Homo sapiens: one gene and its partners. The protein of the gene in region 1 purifies or fractionates together with the protein of each later gene. This does not show direct contact. Each region holds a gene or a part of one and is shown in the gene's direction. Other genes may lie near its edges.

Region 1 (3,947 bases):
TTCTAATCTGGCTGGAGTGGTGGCTCATGTCTACAATCCCAGCACTTTGGAAGGTTGAGGCAGGAGGATCACTTGAGGCCAGGAGGATCACTTGAGACCAGCCTGGACAACATAGTGAGACCCCATTTCTACAAAAAATTAAAAAGATAAATAAAAATGAACACTTTTTTTTTTTTTTTGAGATGGAGTCTCGCTCTGTCACCCAGGCTGGAGTGCAGTGGTGCAATCTCGGCTCACTGCAACCTCCACCTCCCGGGTTCAAGCTATTCTTCTGCCTTAGCCTCCCGAGTAGCTGGGACTACAGGCGCCCTCCACTATGCCTGGCTAATTTTTAGTATTTTTAGTAGAGACAGAGTTTCACCGTGTTAGCCAGGATGGTCTCGATCTCCTGACCTTATGATCTGCCTTCCTTGGCCTCCCAAAGTGCTGGGATTACAGGCGTGACCCACCGCACCCAGCCAAAAATAAATACATTTTCTAATTTGGCCTCAACATCTCCCCCAAGCTGCTTCTTATCCATGTCCATTTCTCGGGGACTGCCCCTTCATCCCAGAGCCCTAGGCCCGTTCTTAGACAGCTCCCGCCTTTCCCTCAAACCGTCGGTCTCACGGCTGCTTCTCCTGGCCTTTTGAGTGTCTCATCCATTGGCCTCGCCCTCTCCTCCCCAACCTCTCCCATCTGTGCCCTGTCCTGGACTCTTTCCCTGGCTTGGGGCTTCCACTCTTACCCGCTCCAACCTATCCCTTTTCATACAGTAACTTTCTGACACTCATATCTGACCCTGCCCTCCCCTGCTCAAAGCCCTTCTGTGGCTCCCCAGTGCCCTCAGAACAGAATCCAAACTCCTTAGCCTGGCATTCAGGGCCTTTTACAACCTCACCCCACAGTAGCCACAGACTGGGACAGGAGTTTTCTGAACACAGACACACACACATCACATCTCCCAAGCTCAAGAAGCCCACCTTTCCTCACTCCTGCCTTATCCCCATTCCTGTATGCCCAAGGCCCACGATTAGACCCCCCTCTGTCAACACTTCACCTGTTTGGTCTTTGCAAGATTCCGCCACTGGGCGGGGGAGGGGGCCCAGCCTGGTACCCCACCCCCACTCCAGCCAGGGCTCAGGTCTCCAACAACAGAACCAGAGCCACTCAACAGCGCTGGAACCCATTCGGTGGGGCCTGGGGCCCCTCATCCCAAGCCAGGAGGGTTTCTGGGGAGGGGTGCAGCCCCTGGCAGACTGACAGTGTGGCCTGGGGGTTTGGGGGTGCCAGGGAAGCAGGGGCCAACCTCATAGGAGGAGACACGAGTGCGGTTCTCTTTCCCCCACTGGGGGGCCTGCTGTGTCAGCAGCCAGGCGGGAGGCCTGGGCGGCAGAGCCAGTGGTACAGGGGCCTGGGCAGGGCGGTGTCTGGCAGCAGCGGCACCATGTCCACCATCCAGTCGGAGACTGACTGCTACGACATCATCGAGGTCTTGGGCAAGGGGACCTTCGGGGAGGTAGCCAAGGGCTGGCGGCGGAGCACGGGCGAGATGGTGGCCATCAAGATCCTCAAGAATGACGCCTACCGCAACCGCATCATCAAGAACGAGCTGAAGCTGCTGCACTGCATGCGAGGCCTAGACCCTGAAGAGGCCCACGTCATCCGCTTCCTTGAGTTCTTCCATGACGCCCTCAAGTTCTACCTGGTCTTTGAGCTGCTGGAGCAAAACCTTTTCGAGTTCCAGAAGGAGAACAACTTCGCGCCCCTCCCCGCCCGCCACATCCGTACAGTCACCCTGCAGGTGCTCACAGCCCTGGCCCGGCTCAAGGAGCTGGCTATCATCCACGCTGATCTCAAGCCTGAGAACATCATGCTGGTGGACCAGACCCGCTGCCCCTTCAGGGTCAAGGTGAGTAGGGGTCGTCTAGGGTGGCTGCGTCCCTAGTTCCTTGTCTTTTTCCCAGCTTCTTCCAGCCCTAGATTTTTTTTTTAATTTTTTAAAATTATTATTATTATTATTTTTGAGACGGAGTTTCATTCTGTTACCCAGGCTTGAGTGCAGTGGCACAATCTCAGCTCACTGCAACTCCGCCTCCTGGGTTCAAGTGATTATCCTGCCTCAGCCTCCCGAGTTGCTGGGATTACAGGGATGCGCCACCACGCCCAGCTAATTTTTTTTTTGTACTTATCAGAGACGGGGTGATGATGGCATGATCTTGGTTCACTGCCTCCGCCTCCCGGGTTCAAGCGATTCTCCTGCCTCAGCCTCCTGAGTAGCTGGGAATACAGGTGCCCGCCACCCATGCCCGGCTAATTTTTGTATTTTTAGTAGAGATGGAGTTTCGCCATGTTGGCCAGGCTGGTCTCAAACTCCTGACCTTGTGATCCACCTGCCTCAGCCTCCCAAAGTGCTGGGATTACAGGCGTGAGCCACCACGCCCAGCCAATTTTTGTGTTTTTTGGTAGAAACAGGATTTCATCATGTTGCCCAGGCTGGTCTCAAAGTCCTGAGTTCAAGCAATCTGCCCACCTTGGCCTCAACAAAGTGCTGGAATTACAAGTGTGAGCCACCATGCCCAGTCCTCTGTCTGCTTTTGAGTTTGATACTGTCTGGATGCTTCTGAACCAGGGGCACCCTGAGGGCAAGGCTGGGGCTGACTTAATCATCGCTGTGTCCCTGACATCTCCCAGCACTGCAGTCATGGAGCCAGTGCTAAATGAATGCTTGCCAGAGACACAGAGACAGAAAAAGGTGGATTATTCTGCCCCAAGAGGTGGAAGGACAGAGACCCAGGGAAGCAGGGACTTCCACAAACACAGCAGGGGACAGACAGGACGGATCCACAGCACCTGGCCGGCATTATCACCCCCACTGTCTCTGTGGAAGGAATGAATTCATTCCACAAACATAGACTAAGTGCCCAGGGTCACTCAGCCTCTTGGGTACTGAAGCCCTGGCACTCTGGGATCAGAATAGCAATTAATAACCATTTCATGATACTGCTTTCTGCAAGTGAAAGGTGAGGGATGGCCAGGTGCGGTGGCTCACGCCTGTAATCCCAGCACTTTGGGAGGCCGAGGCGGGTGGATCACCTGAGGTCAGGAGTTCAAGACCAGCCTGACCAATATGGTGAAACCTCGTCTCTGCTAAAAGTATAAAAATTAGCCGGGTGTGGTGGCGGGCACCTGTAATCCTAGCTACTCCAGAGGCTGAAGCAGATAAATCGCTTAGAACCCGGGAGGCAGAGGTTGCAGTGAGCTGAGATTACGCCACTGCACTCCAGCCTGGGCGACAGAGGAAGTCCCTCTGTCTCAGAAAAAAAAAAAAAAAAACTAAACTAAAATTAGCTAGGCGTGGTGGCACATACCTGGAATCCCAGTTAGTTGGGGGGCAGAGGCAGGAGACTCACTTGAACTTGGGAGGCAGAGGTTTTGCAGTGAGCTGAGATCACGCCACTGCACTCCAGCCTGGGCGACAGAGCTCGACTCTGTCTCAACACAAAACAAAAACAAAAAACTGAGAAATGGCTGAATGAAAAGCAGAAAAACTCAGAGAAGGAAACAGGCTGGCCAGGTGTGGTGGCCCAAGCCTGTAATCCCAGCACTTTGGGAGGCTGAGGCAGGTGGATCACCTGAGGTCAGAAGCTCAAGACCAGCCTGGCCAACATGGTGAAATCCTGTCTCTATTAAAAATACAAAACTTAGCCAGATGTGGTGGGGTGCACCTGTAATCCCAGCTACTTGGGAGGCTGATGCAGGAGAATCGCTTGAACCCATATGGGGGCGGAGGTTGCAGTGAGCCGAGATCATGCCGCTGCACTCCAGCTTGGACAAAAGAGTGAAGCCACCTGAAAAAGAAAAAGAAAAAGAAACAGGCCAAGAGAGAGTCACGGAGATTCAGGGTGAAAATGGCAGACAGCTCCACCAGAGGCATGGGGAGAGACAAAGGCTTTCGGCCATTCGCA
Region 2 (3,500 bases), 4.2 Mb from region 1:
AAATGAATTTGATTACTATTGAAGTAAGTAATGCATTTCTGTGATTCAACAAAGATCTATCTCACAGAGATATCTCATTCTGCTCCCTTCCCCCAGTCACATTCTTCTTTGTCTTATGTAAACATGTCTTGTTTTTTTTTGTTTGCTTCTTGTTTATCCTTCAAGTGGGTTTTTTGTTTTTTGTTCTGTCACTATTATATATTTCTCTTCACTCCTGTTTCCCTCCACCTTACATAAAAGATAGCATACCACATGCACCTCCCTATATCTCACTTTCTTTAATAACAGTATGTCCTAGAGATAGCCCTTCCTTTTTTCTTTCTTTTTTTTTTTTTTTTTTTTTTGAAATAGTCTCGCTCTGTCACCCAAGCTGGTGTGCAATGGTGTTAACATGGCATACTGCAGCCTCCAACTGCTGGGCTGAAGTGATCTTCCTGCCTCAGCCGCCTGTGTAGCTGGGACCACAGGCACACTCCACCACACCTGGCTTTTTTACTTTTTGTAGAGATGAGGTCTCACTGTTTCCCAGATTGGTCTCGAACTCCTGAGCTCAAGCAGTCCTCCTCTCTTGGCTTCCCAAAGTGTTGGGATTACAAGTGTGAGCCACTGCACCCAGCCAAGGTGTTCCTTCTTAATCATAATCTTTAAAAGAAATTTTTTTTTCAGCTGCTGTATAAATAAGATGTCATTATTTGGATGCACCATGGTTGATTCAGTTAATCCCGTTGTTGAGCATTTGGATTGTTTCCAGTCTTCTGCTGTTGCTAACAATGCAGTAATGAATAATTTTTTTATGTGCGCCATTTTATACTGACACAGGAGTAGCTCTAAACTAGACTGCTATTAATACAAATGGCGCTGCCCAGTGGGTAAGTACTTACACTCCCACAAGCCATGTGCGAGAGCGTCTTCCCCTTAAACTCACCATGAGTGTAGTGTCGAATATTTGGTATTTCGCTAGGGACATAAGAGACAATCTGAACTTCAGTGTAGGTTTCATTTACATCCCTTCTTATGAATGAGAATTTTTTTTTATATGTTTAAAGGCCTGTATGTATTAATCTAGGAACTGTCTATTCATATCCTTTTCACCATTTTTCTATGGGGTGTCTTCTCCTTAGAGGAGCTGTTTATAAATTAGAAAGGTTAGCCCTGTATGAAATGAGTGGTGGCTTTTTTTTTTTTTTTTTTTGAAGTTTTCATTTGCATTTGGACATTGTTCACAGTGGTTTCTTTTTTTTTTAATCTTGCAGAAATAAGAGGTTTTGTTTTAATTTAGTAATAATAGTTTCTTTTTTTACATAGCCGTGCTTAGAATGAGCCCCCTGTGGTTGGTGAGCACAGAGACATCCCCGCACCACACCAAAGACCTTTTTATTCATGTATTTTTTAGAGGCACAGTCTCACTGTGTTGCACAGGCTGGCCTTGAACCCCTGGGCCCAAGCAAGTCTCAGACTCCCAAGTAGCGGGGACTACAGGCAGTGCACCACCATGCTGCTATGGTTTTCTTTTTATTTTCAAAACTTTTGGCTGGGCGCGATGGCTCACGCCTGTAATCCCAGCACTTTGGGAGGCTGAGGCGGGTAGATCACTTGAGGTCAGGAGTTTGAGACTAGCCCGGTCAACATGGTGAAACCCCGTCTCTACTAAAAATACAAAAAATTTAGCCAGTCATTGTGGTGCACGAGATCACACCACTGCACTTTAGCCTGGGCAACAGAGTGAGACTCCGTCTCAAAAAAAAAAAAAAATCTAGTTACATTTTTTTCTTTTTGAGATGGAGTATCTCTCCGTCCCCCAGGCTGGAATGCAGTGGTGCGATTTCGGCTCACTGCAAGCTCCGCCTCCCGGGTTCACGCCATTCTCCTGCCTCAGCCTCCCAAGTAGCTGGGACTACAGGCGCATGCCACCACGCCTGGTTAATTTTTTCGTATTTTTAGTAGAGACGGGGTTTCACCATGTTAGCCAGGATGGTCTCGATCTCCTGACCTCGTGATCCGCCCGCCTCGGCCCTCCAAAGTGCTGGGATTACAGGCGTGAGCCACCGCGCGTGGCTGATTCATCAGTCTTTTATGGTTATCAGACTTTTCCACTCTTAAGTTTCACCGATATTTTCAAATTCTTATAAAGTTACAGTTTTTTGTTGTTTGATTGTTTTAGAGTTGGATCTTGATCTGTCACCCAGGCTGGGGTGCAGTGGCGTGATCACAGCTGACTGCAGCCTTCATATCCTCGCTAATTTAAAAAAAAAAAAATTGTAGAGATAAGATCTCCCTGTGTTGCCCAGGCTGGTCTCAAACTCCTGGGCCCAAGTGATCCTGCTACCTTGGCTTCCCAAGTCAGAGCAATAGTTTTTTTAAGATTTTGTTTTTATTTTAATTTATAATCCATTTAGATTTTATCCTGGTGTATGCTATCAGATATGCATCCAGCTTTACCTTTTTCCAATTGGCTACCACGTTCTTTGACATCATTTATTAAAAGGTCTTACCTGGCTGGGCACGGTGGCTCACGCCTGCAATCCCAGCACTTTGCAAGGCCAAGGTGGGTGGATCACTTGAGGTCAGGAGTTCGAGACCAGCCTGGCCAATATGGAGAAACCCTGTCTCTACTAAAAATACAAAACATTAGCTGGGTGTGGTGGCACATGCCTGAATCCCAGCTATTCGGAGGCTGAGACAGGAGAATCGCTTGAACATAGGAGGGCGGAGGTTGCAGTGAGCTGAGATTGTGCCACTGCACTGCAGCCTGGGCAACAAGAGCCAAACTCCATCTCACACACATTAAAAAAAGGTCTTATGTTTACTATTTTTAGGATGCCACTTTGATTATATACTAAATTCTCACATTTATTTGGTCTGTTTCTGGGTGTGAGCAGAAAGACTGAGGACACTGCTATAGCCCAGGTGTAACAACCAGGGAAAATATTTATCTTTTTACTATTGAGGCTTTATCATTGTGTTTTACTTTGTGGTATAGCTAGTCTCTTAATTGCTCGTCCTTTTCAGTGTTTCCTGGCTATTCTTGCCTGTTTATTTTTCTTTGTAAATTTTAGGATTAGCTTGTCTCGTTCCAGAGGGGGAAAAGGTAGAACTAGTTTGTTACTTTTATTGGGATTGCATTAAATTTATAAAATAACTTGGGAATAGGGACATTTTTATGACATTAAATATTCCTCTTTATGTACGTGATACGTATTCTCGTTTCTTTTTGGGTCCTCTAGGGTGTTTTAAAATTTTTTTCATACAGGTTTGGACACTTCTTACTAAGTTTATTTCTGGATGTTTTGTTTTATGTTGCTATGAATGGAGTCATTGTTGGCATATATGAAGCTGTTGATTTCTACATACTAATATTATTCCCTGCTTTCCTTAGTTATTTGTAATTAGATTATATAATTGAGGCAGTAGGCATCCTTGTCTGTTTAGAATCTAATAGAAATGCCTTCAGTGTTTTTCTATTACTTTTATTATCATGATTTGCTTTTCAGTGTTTTTAC
Region 3 (3,500 bases), about 25 Mb from region 1:
AGCACAACCCCTACCGCCCCAGCTACAGCTACGACTATGAGTTCGACCTGGGGTCCGACCGCAATGGCAGCTTTGGGGGGCAGTACAGTGAATGCCGAGACCCAGCCCGGGAGCGGGGCTCCCTTGATGGCTTCATGCGGGGCCGGGGCCAGGGCCGCTTCCAGGACCGGAGCAACCCTGGCACCTTCATGCGCAGCGACCCCTTCGTGCCCCCCGCTGCGTCCTCTGAGCCCCTGTCCACGCCCTGGAACGAGCTGAACTACGTGGGTGGACGGGGCCTGGGAGGGCCCTCCCCCAGCCGGCCACCTCCGTCCCTCTTCTCCCAGTCCATGGCTCCCGACTACGGCGTGATGGGCATGCAGGGGGCGGGCGGCTATGACAGCACCATGCCCTACGGATGTGGCCGCTCGCAGCCTCGGATGCGGGATCGGGATCGGGTAAGCCCTCGCAAGGTTCCTTCCGGCCGCCTTCGCTTCTCTTTTTAGCAGCTTTATTGAGGTAAAATTTCCCCATCTCAACATTCACTTAAATGTTTTTAAGTGCGCAGTTCGACTTTTAGTTAATTTACAGGATTGTGCAACCATCCCCACCATCACAGTCTAATCTTAGCATTTATGTCAACCAGAAGAGAAACTTCTTCTCATTAGTCACCCCTGTCTCTTCCCCGCCCCCACCAGCCCCCGACAACCACCACTGGTCTCTGGATTTGTGTGTTCTAGACATTTTGCACAAATGGAGTCGCGAAACGTGTGGCCTTTTGTTCCTGGCTTCTTTTCACTCAGCATGATTTTCTTTTTAGTTTCAAATTATGTTGTCTCTTTGCTTTTTGAAAAGACCTTTTGTGCCTGTGTTGTCTGATCCTACAACCTCCTTGTTCTTTTCTGTGGGGCATCTTCATGGCCCTCGTAAGTAGCTCATGGGGTGTGCTTGTTGTCTGTAGCCCAAGAGGAGAGGGTTTGACCGCTTCGGACCAGATGGCACGGGCAGGAAACGGAAGCAGTTCCAACTTTACGAGGAGCCAGACACCAAACTGGCCCGGGTTGACAGTGAAGGAGATTTCTCCGAAAATGGTATGTCCTGGGGGCCAGGTGGGCCAGACAGATGTAGGATGGGTCGGCTGCCTGCTGGGGGCTCTGCTTGCCCCATCTGTGTCGTGGACACTCGCAGGTGGCATGTTTCAACCCCACTGTGGTCAGGGCAGACTCACCCTGGATGGCGAGCTTGGGAGGGCGGAAACCGGATGGGACCGTTCTCCGGGGACTGACTTTTCCTTTCTTTGTGTCTGGCAGATGACGCAGCTGGTGACTTCCGCTCAGGAGATGAAGAATTCAAGGGTGTAAGTCCACCAGGCAGCCCTTTTGCCTCTAGTGTGGGATTTCTTCTTTCTTTAATCACCCTTCCTCACAAAGGGGCAGGAGCAGCTGCCATGGTAGATTTGACTACCTCTGAGTGGATTCAGGACCCTGACTTTTAGCTAGATTTCTAAAAGTTTTCCACCTTAGCCGGCACGGTGGCTCACACCTGTAATCCTAGCACTTAGGGAGGCTCAGGTGGGTGGATCACTTGAGGTCGAGAGTTGGAGACCAGCCTGGCCAACATGGTGAAACCCCGTCTCGATTAAAAATACAAAAATTAGCCAGGAGTGGTGGCACTTGCCTGTAGTAGCAGCTACTTGGGAGGCTGAGGGAGGAGGATCACTTGAACCTGGGAGGTGGAGGTTGCAGTGAGCTGACGTTGCATCACTGCACCCCAGCCTGGGCGACAGAGGGAGACTCCGTCTCAAAAAAAAAAAAAAAGTTTTCAACTTACAACAAACATTCCTTTTCTGAAAAAAGCTCCCAGTTCCTCTCCCTGGTCTCTAGGCCAGTAAGTGCAGGGACTGTGGGCTGAAGCCTCCAAGCACAGGCTGGAGGCTCATTTGCCGCCAGCTCCGTGCCGGGTGCCGCTGACTGGTGTCCTCATCCTTCCATCCTCACAACAAGGCACAGGCAGGCAGCACGTGGGGCCAGTTCATAGCCGGGACCACCCCAAGCTCTTGGGGAGGTGCCTCAGCCACCCCAGTGTAGATTCTGATCCAAGTTGGAGGTGTAGGGCCTGGAGGTCCAGAGTGGGAAGGAGGGCCTTCCCCAAGTCCTTAGAGTCACACAGGCAGGGAACAGGCAGGAGATGGTGGCTTTTCAGGTTTTCAGAGTCTCACTTGATCCCTATTTTGCTGGTCTTGAGATTAGGAATCTCTGTAAACCTGCTGATTGTTAATTTAGCCGTATGTTCACTGCCTAAGGAGTCAGCTCTGTTCAGATTCTCAGTTGAATCGTTTTTATCTATACGTGATTGTTATTAAGACATCGGGTAAATATAGGCCTGGCGCGGTGGCTCACACCTGTAATCCCAGCACTTTGGGAGGCCAAGGCGGGTGGATCACGAGGTCACAAGATTGAGACCATCCTGGCCAATATGGTGAAACCCCGTCTCTACTGAAAATACAAAAATTAGCTGGATGTGGCGGCATGCGCCTATAGTCCCAGCTACTCGGGAGGCTGAGGCAGAGGATTTGCTTCAACCCAGGAAGCAGAGGTTGCAGTGAGCTGAGATTGCATCATTGCACTCCAGCCTGGGAGACAGGGCGAGACTCCGTCTCAAAAAAAAAAAAAAAAAAAAAAAAGACATTGGGTAAATATAAACAAAAGCTCGGGAAACGTGGTGGAACCCATTTTCTATGAAGAATGCCAGAACTGGCATCCCCCAAGTGAGACTCTATCTCCCTACGGTTGGTGAACAGGCTCCATTCATAGAATTGTACGGGTGGGTCTTTGTCATGGGGCAGGCAGTTCTGCAGCTTAGGAGGAACCGAGAGAGGGTGGGTGAATGGCTTTTTAGCAAGGTGATTGTCACAGAATCTCTGAAGGCAACTAGGAGTAATAACAGGACACACAGGCCCTGTCCTGAGCCCCGGAGGCTGGTCCTAACACACTGTGGCTCATTCTTGGTGGCATAGCAACCTAGGTCTTGGGTGAGACTGCCCACCAGGCAGTGGCCAGGGACTGGGCTGGTTGTGGAGAGTCTGGACACACCAGCTCACTGCCGGACTTTGTGTATACTCTTTTCCAGGAGGATGAACTCTGCGACTCTGGGAGGCAAAGAGGTAGGCATCACCGTGTCCCTTGCAGCTTTCCTGTGTCTTCCCAGCTGCCCCGCACTTACTGCCCAGCTTCTGAGCAAGCCAGGGGCCTGGATGGAGGGGCCCGTGGCTGTGGGGGAAGAGGGGCTGCAGCCACCAGATGGGCCTTGACCGTGGCGATCAGCCAACACTTTGCTTCAAAGTGTCTGGGGCAGCATTTACTGGAAACGGGTCTGTCTGCCTGACCCGATGTGGGCTGCAGTGGGGATGGGGGGCAGCCTTGGGTGTCCACCACAGTCGAAGTTTGTAGGGAAGGAGAAACATGAGAGAAGAGGCCCCCAGCCCATCTTCTGTGCCCTCCTCGGCCAGTGCATTTCCCTGA
Region 4 (3,500 bases), on another chromosome or scaffold:
CAGAGTGCCTGGGCACGTTTTTATCCAGTAACCTAGTCTGGTAGACAGTTAACAAGTGATCCTATGAACCTCTATGTCTTGTTGACCTTCCTCTACATCTTTTAGGGGCAATCCTCCTATTTGTTTATTTGCCCCCTATTATTTTGAAAACAATAAGTGCTGAAGAAATGTTCAGCGTATTGGGCTGTGAGAAACAACGTCCTGATGGTTTGCTTCTGACTTGTACTTAGACCTTTGGTCTCATGCTAGTCAGTTCTGTTTGTTTAAAAAAAAAAATGGTGGAAGAATATCTTTCTTATCTAACCTTTGTTGCTGTGGACATGACTTATAAGCCTAATTAAAGTTAATTAATTCTTAGTGTGTCTAAGTTAGACATACTATTTCCTGACTGCCTTGGAATGGGTGTGAATTTACATGAGCACTTATGTGCTCAGCTTAGAAACTAGACTAACGGTAAACTTTTAGTCTAAGATGCTACCTATTTTTTTCTACCCTGACAGCTACTGAGGCTGAGAAGTTCACTTTACCCATTGTCTAATGTATTTGGGAAAGTGGCATTTATAATACTTTGTAGGTTGACAGATACTACATTCATTATTTATATAATGCTTCCTATTCTTCTTAACTTGGGTAAATCTAACTCATGGTATCTTTCGTATGTGTCTATCCAACCGAAGGATTGCTATCTTCTCTTTAAGTGTTTTTCACTTCCCTACTTCCACCACCCCAAAGTGGAAGCAGTCTCTCTTCTTTTGAGTCCACATGGCACGTTAAAGATCATTGTAACGTCATACAACATTGAAAAGAATGTCTTACATTATCTTGATTCTTGTATTTACTATACTAGATGATAAACCCCCTGGGCAGAATGCATCTGATCTGTACTTATCCTCAAAAGTAGCTAGCATGATGTCCCACATTGGTGCTCAGTAATATGTTTCAGTTAAATGAACAAGAGAGCAGAGGTATGGCCTTGATGTTTCCAGAGAAGGCAGCTGAGGCAGATAATTCCATGATTTGCCAAATCCAAATAACTTAATGTCATCATCAGTGGGCAAGTCTAGAACCCTAATATCCTGGTGCTCAAAATTAGTGTTATCAATTCAGTCTTCTCCACATTAAACAATTTCCAATTCCTTTGAGGCCTGGTGTGATGGATTCTGTCTTTCAAATGCTTTTTTTCTTTCAGTGACTCTATCGTTCATAAATGTTAAATAAAACCCTCACTCTGTTATAAAAATATAGACTTTAAAAATTTTCCAAAGTAAACACTCCAGAGAAAGGTAGGCGGGCTGAATAGGCTGCTGTTGTCCTTCTTACTGCCCAGCGTCACTGAAATTTTCAAAGGCTCCTGTCCTCCTCGCAGGTTTCTGCCACCTCTTTCTGCCAGATGAACAGTTTCCTGAAGGGTTCCAGTTTGACACTGACGATGTGAATTTCCCTATCGATAATCTGTGCTTTGTTGGGCTCATCTCCATGATTGACCCTCCACGGGCGGCCGTTCCTGATGCCGTGGGCAAATGTCGAAGTGCTGGAATTAAGGTAGTGCCCAGGCGCCTCCTTGGCTTCATCTCTTAGTGCCTTGGGACACCCTACTCAGTGAATGTTGCCTTTTGAGGTCCAGATGGCCAGCTGTTCTATCTCACCTGGAGTATTAATTTCTCATCTCCAAAGCTTTACTTCCACCCAGAAAAGACCAGATAGTATTAAAATATGATGGTGTAAACACACGAGGAATTAAAAATTTTTTGGAAAGCAATTGTGTAAAAAAGAAATGTAAGCAAAGTAAAAACAGCAAAAGACTTGAAGTTTTAAAATACTTGCATTATTCTAAGTTAATGTACCTTATGCAATGAATGGCATATCTTCTGTGTTTTCAGTTAACTGTTTGTTAATGAGTGTTTGGTGTCCTCTGTGTATCTGTCTTTTTTTAAGTAGCTGAATATTACTCAAGTGCACTAATATCCTGTTGCTGGGTATTTGGTTTCTGTTTTTTACTCTCAGGATTTTATTTTATTTATTTTTTGAGACAGAGTCTTGCTCTATTGCCCAGGCTGGAATGTCATAGCACGATCTCGGCTCACTGCAACCTCCGCCTCCCAGGTTCAAGCAATTCTCCTGCCCCAGCCTCCCAAGTAGCTGGAATTACAGGCACCCGCTACCACGCCCAGCTAATTTTTGTATTTTTAAGTAAAGATAGGGTTTCGCCACGTTGGCCAGGCTGGTCTCAAACTCCTGACCTCAGGTGATCTGCCCACCTCAGCCTCCCAAAGTGCTGGGGTTACAAGCGTGAGCCACCACACCCGGCCTACTCTCAGGATTAATACTGCCCTGAAAAGCTTTGTAGAAGTTATTTCCTCACCATTCCGACTGCTTCTTTTTAAAGTATATTCTAAGTATAATCACTGCATCAAAAAATAACAATTTTGAATTCTTGTCACATGTTGCTTTTCCTCCAAGTTGTGCCAATTTGAGAATGCTAGCCAGTAGCATGTGGTGTCTTCACAGTCCCACCAGCATCAGATTTTTATCCTTTTTTTTTTTTTTTTTTTTTGCTGGTTTTAGTAATTTTCAAGTATTTTTATGTAACTCTGTAGAAGGAAAAATAGACATTGTGTATGCTAGTGATTGTATACCAAGATAAAACCTGAGTATTGCCTTTGTGTTTCCTTTCTGTGGATATATATGTTTATATTTTTGGCTAATCGATGTTTATTAGTTTTATATTTGCATTCCTTTCCTTTTGATAGTCTAAGCCGAATCATCCTTAGTATTTACTCTTGCCTACTGGATATAAGACTTTAAGGTCATTTACTTGGCAGTTGCATTCAACACATTGTCTTGTTTATTACAGGTCATCATGGTCACAGGAGACCATCCAATCACAGCTAAAGCTATTGCCAAAGGTGTGGGCATCATCTCAGAAGGCAATGAGACCGTGGAAGACATTGCTGCCCGCCTCAACATCCCAGTCAGCCAGGTGAACCCCAGGTAAGGCAGGAAGCTCAAATCACAGTCTGCTGTGAACAAGCAAATAGTGATGGTTTAAAATCTTCAGCGTGGTTCTATAATGGTTTGCATCTAGGCTTGCTCTGAGTAGGAAATGTACCTGCACTGCCAGAAAGCAACCTTGTCATTCCTAAGAAGGGTTTTAAGTAAGAGCAAGTCATAATAATTAGCACTTAGATGGTATTTACTGTTCTAAGAGCTTGATATGGTGACCTATTATTTGCAGAGCAGGGAAGGTAAGGATTCAAGAGGCTTTTGAAGTACCTCAGAACTGGTGAAATCATGCAGTAAATTCAGCAGTCTAGCTTCTGATTTCATGCTGTTAACCACTGAGCTCTACTGCCTAGCACCTAGCATCTTGACACTTTCCAGGTCCACACTAACAAAATAAAATAAGGAAGGGACAATTACTTAGGCCATTCAGGCAAACACAGGAGACATTTGGCAATGAAGTAAAACAGATAATAGCAAATTGGTTTTGTTTTAAGGTT

Evidence for each region. The genes of interacting proteins can lie anywhere in the genome.
Region 2: the proteins of HIPK4 (region 1) and ZNF146 purify together in Homo sapiens (affinity purification with mass spectrometry, with the first as the bait; one large-scale study listed by BioGRID). This does not show direct contact.
Region 3: the proteins of HIPK4 (region 1) and AKAP8 purify together in Homo sapiens (affinity purification with mass spectrometry; one large-scale study listed by BioGRID and IntAct). This does not show direct contact.
Region 4: the proteins of HIPK4 (region 1) and ATP1A1 purify together in Homo sapiens (affinity purification with mass spectrometry; one large-scale study listed by BioGRID and IntAct). This does not show direct contact.

What each region holds. Positions count from the first base shown.
Region 1 is NC_000019.10:40,387,382-40,391,328, reverse strand, and holds the start of HIPK4 (homeodomain-interacting protein kinase 4), read left to right. Parts: upstream 1-1,147; 5' UTR 1,148-1,426; coding exon 1,427-1,891; intron 1,892-3,947. UniProt on the Homo sapiens protein: Protein kinase that phosphorylates human TP53 at Ser-9, and thus induces TP53 repression of BIRC5 promoter. May act as a corepressor of transcription factors.
Region 2 is NC_000019.10:36,221,606-36,225,105, forward strand, and holds part of ZNF146 (zinc finger protein OZF), read left to right. Parts: intron 1-3,500.
Region 3 is NC_000019.10:15,369,788-15,373,287, reverse strand, and holds part of AKAP8 (A-kinase anchor protein 8), read left to right. Parts: coding exon 1-437; intron 438-940; coding exon 941-1,070; intron 1,071-1,289; coding exon 1,290-1,336; intron 1,337-3,108; coding exon 3,109-3,142; intron 3,143-3,500. UniProt on the Homo sapiens protein: Anchoring protein that mediates the subcellular compartmentation of cAMP-dependent protein kinase (PKA type II).
Region 4 is NC_000001.11:116,393,744-116,397,243, forward strand, and holds part of ATP1A1 (sodium/potassium-transporting ATPase subunit alpha-1), read left to right. Parts: intron 1-1,366; coding exon 1,367-1,542; intron 1,543-2,854; coding exon 2,855-2,991; intron 2,992-3,500. UniProt on the Homo sapiens protein: This is the catalytic component of the active enzyme, which catalyzes the hydrolysis of ATP coupled with the exchange of sodium and potassium ions across the plasma membrane.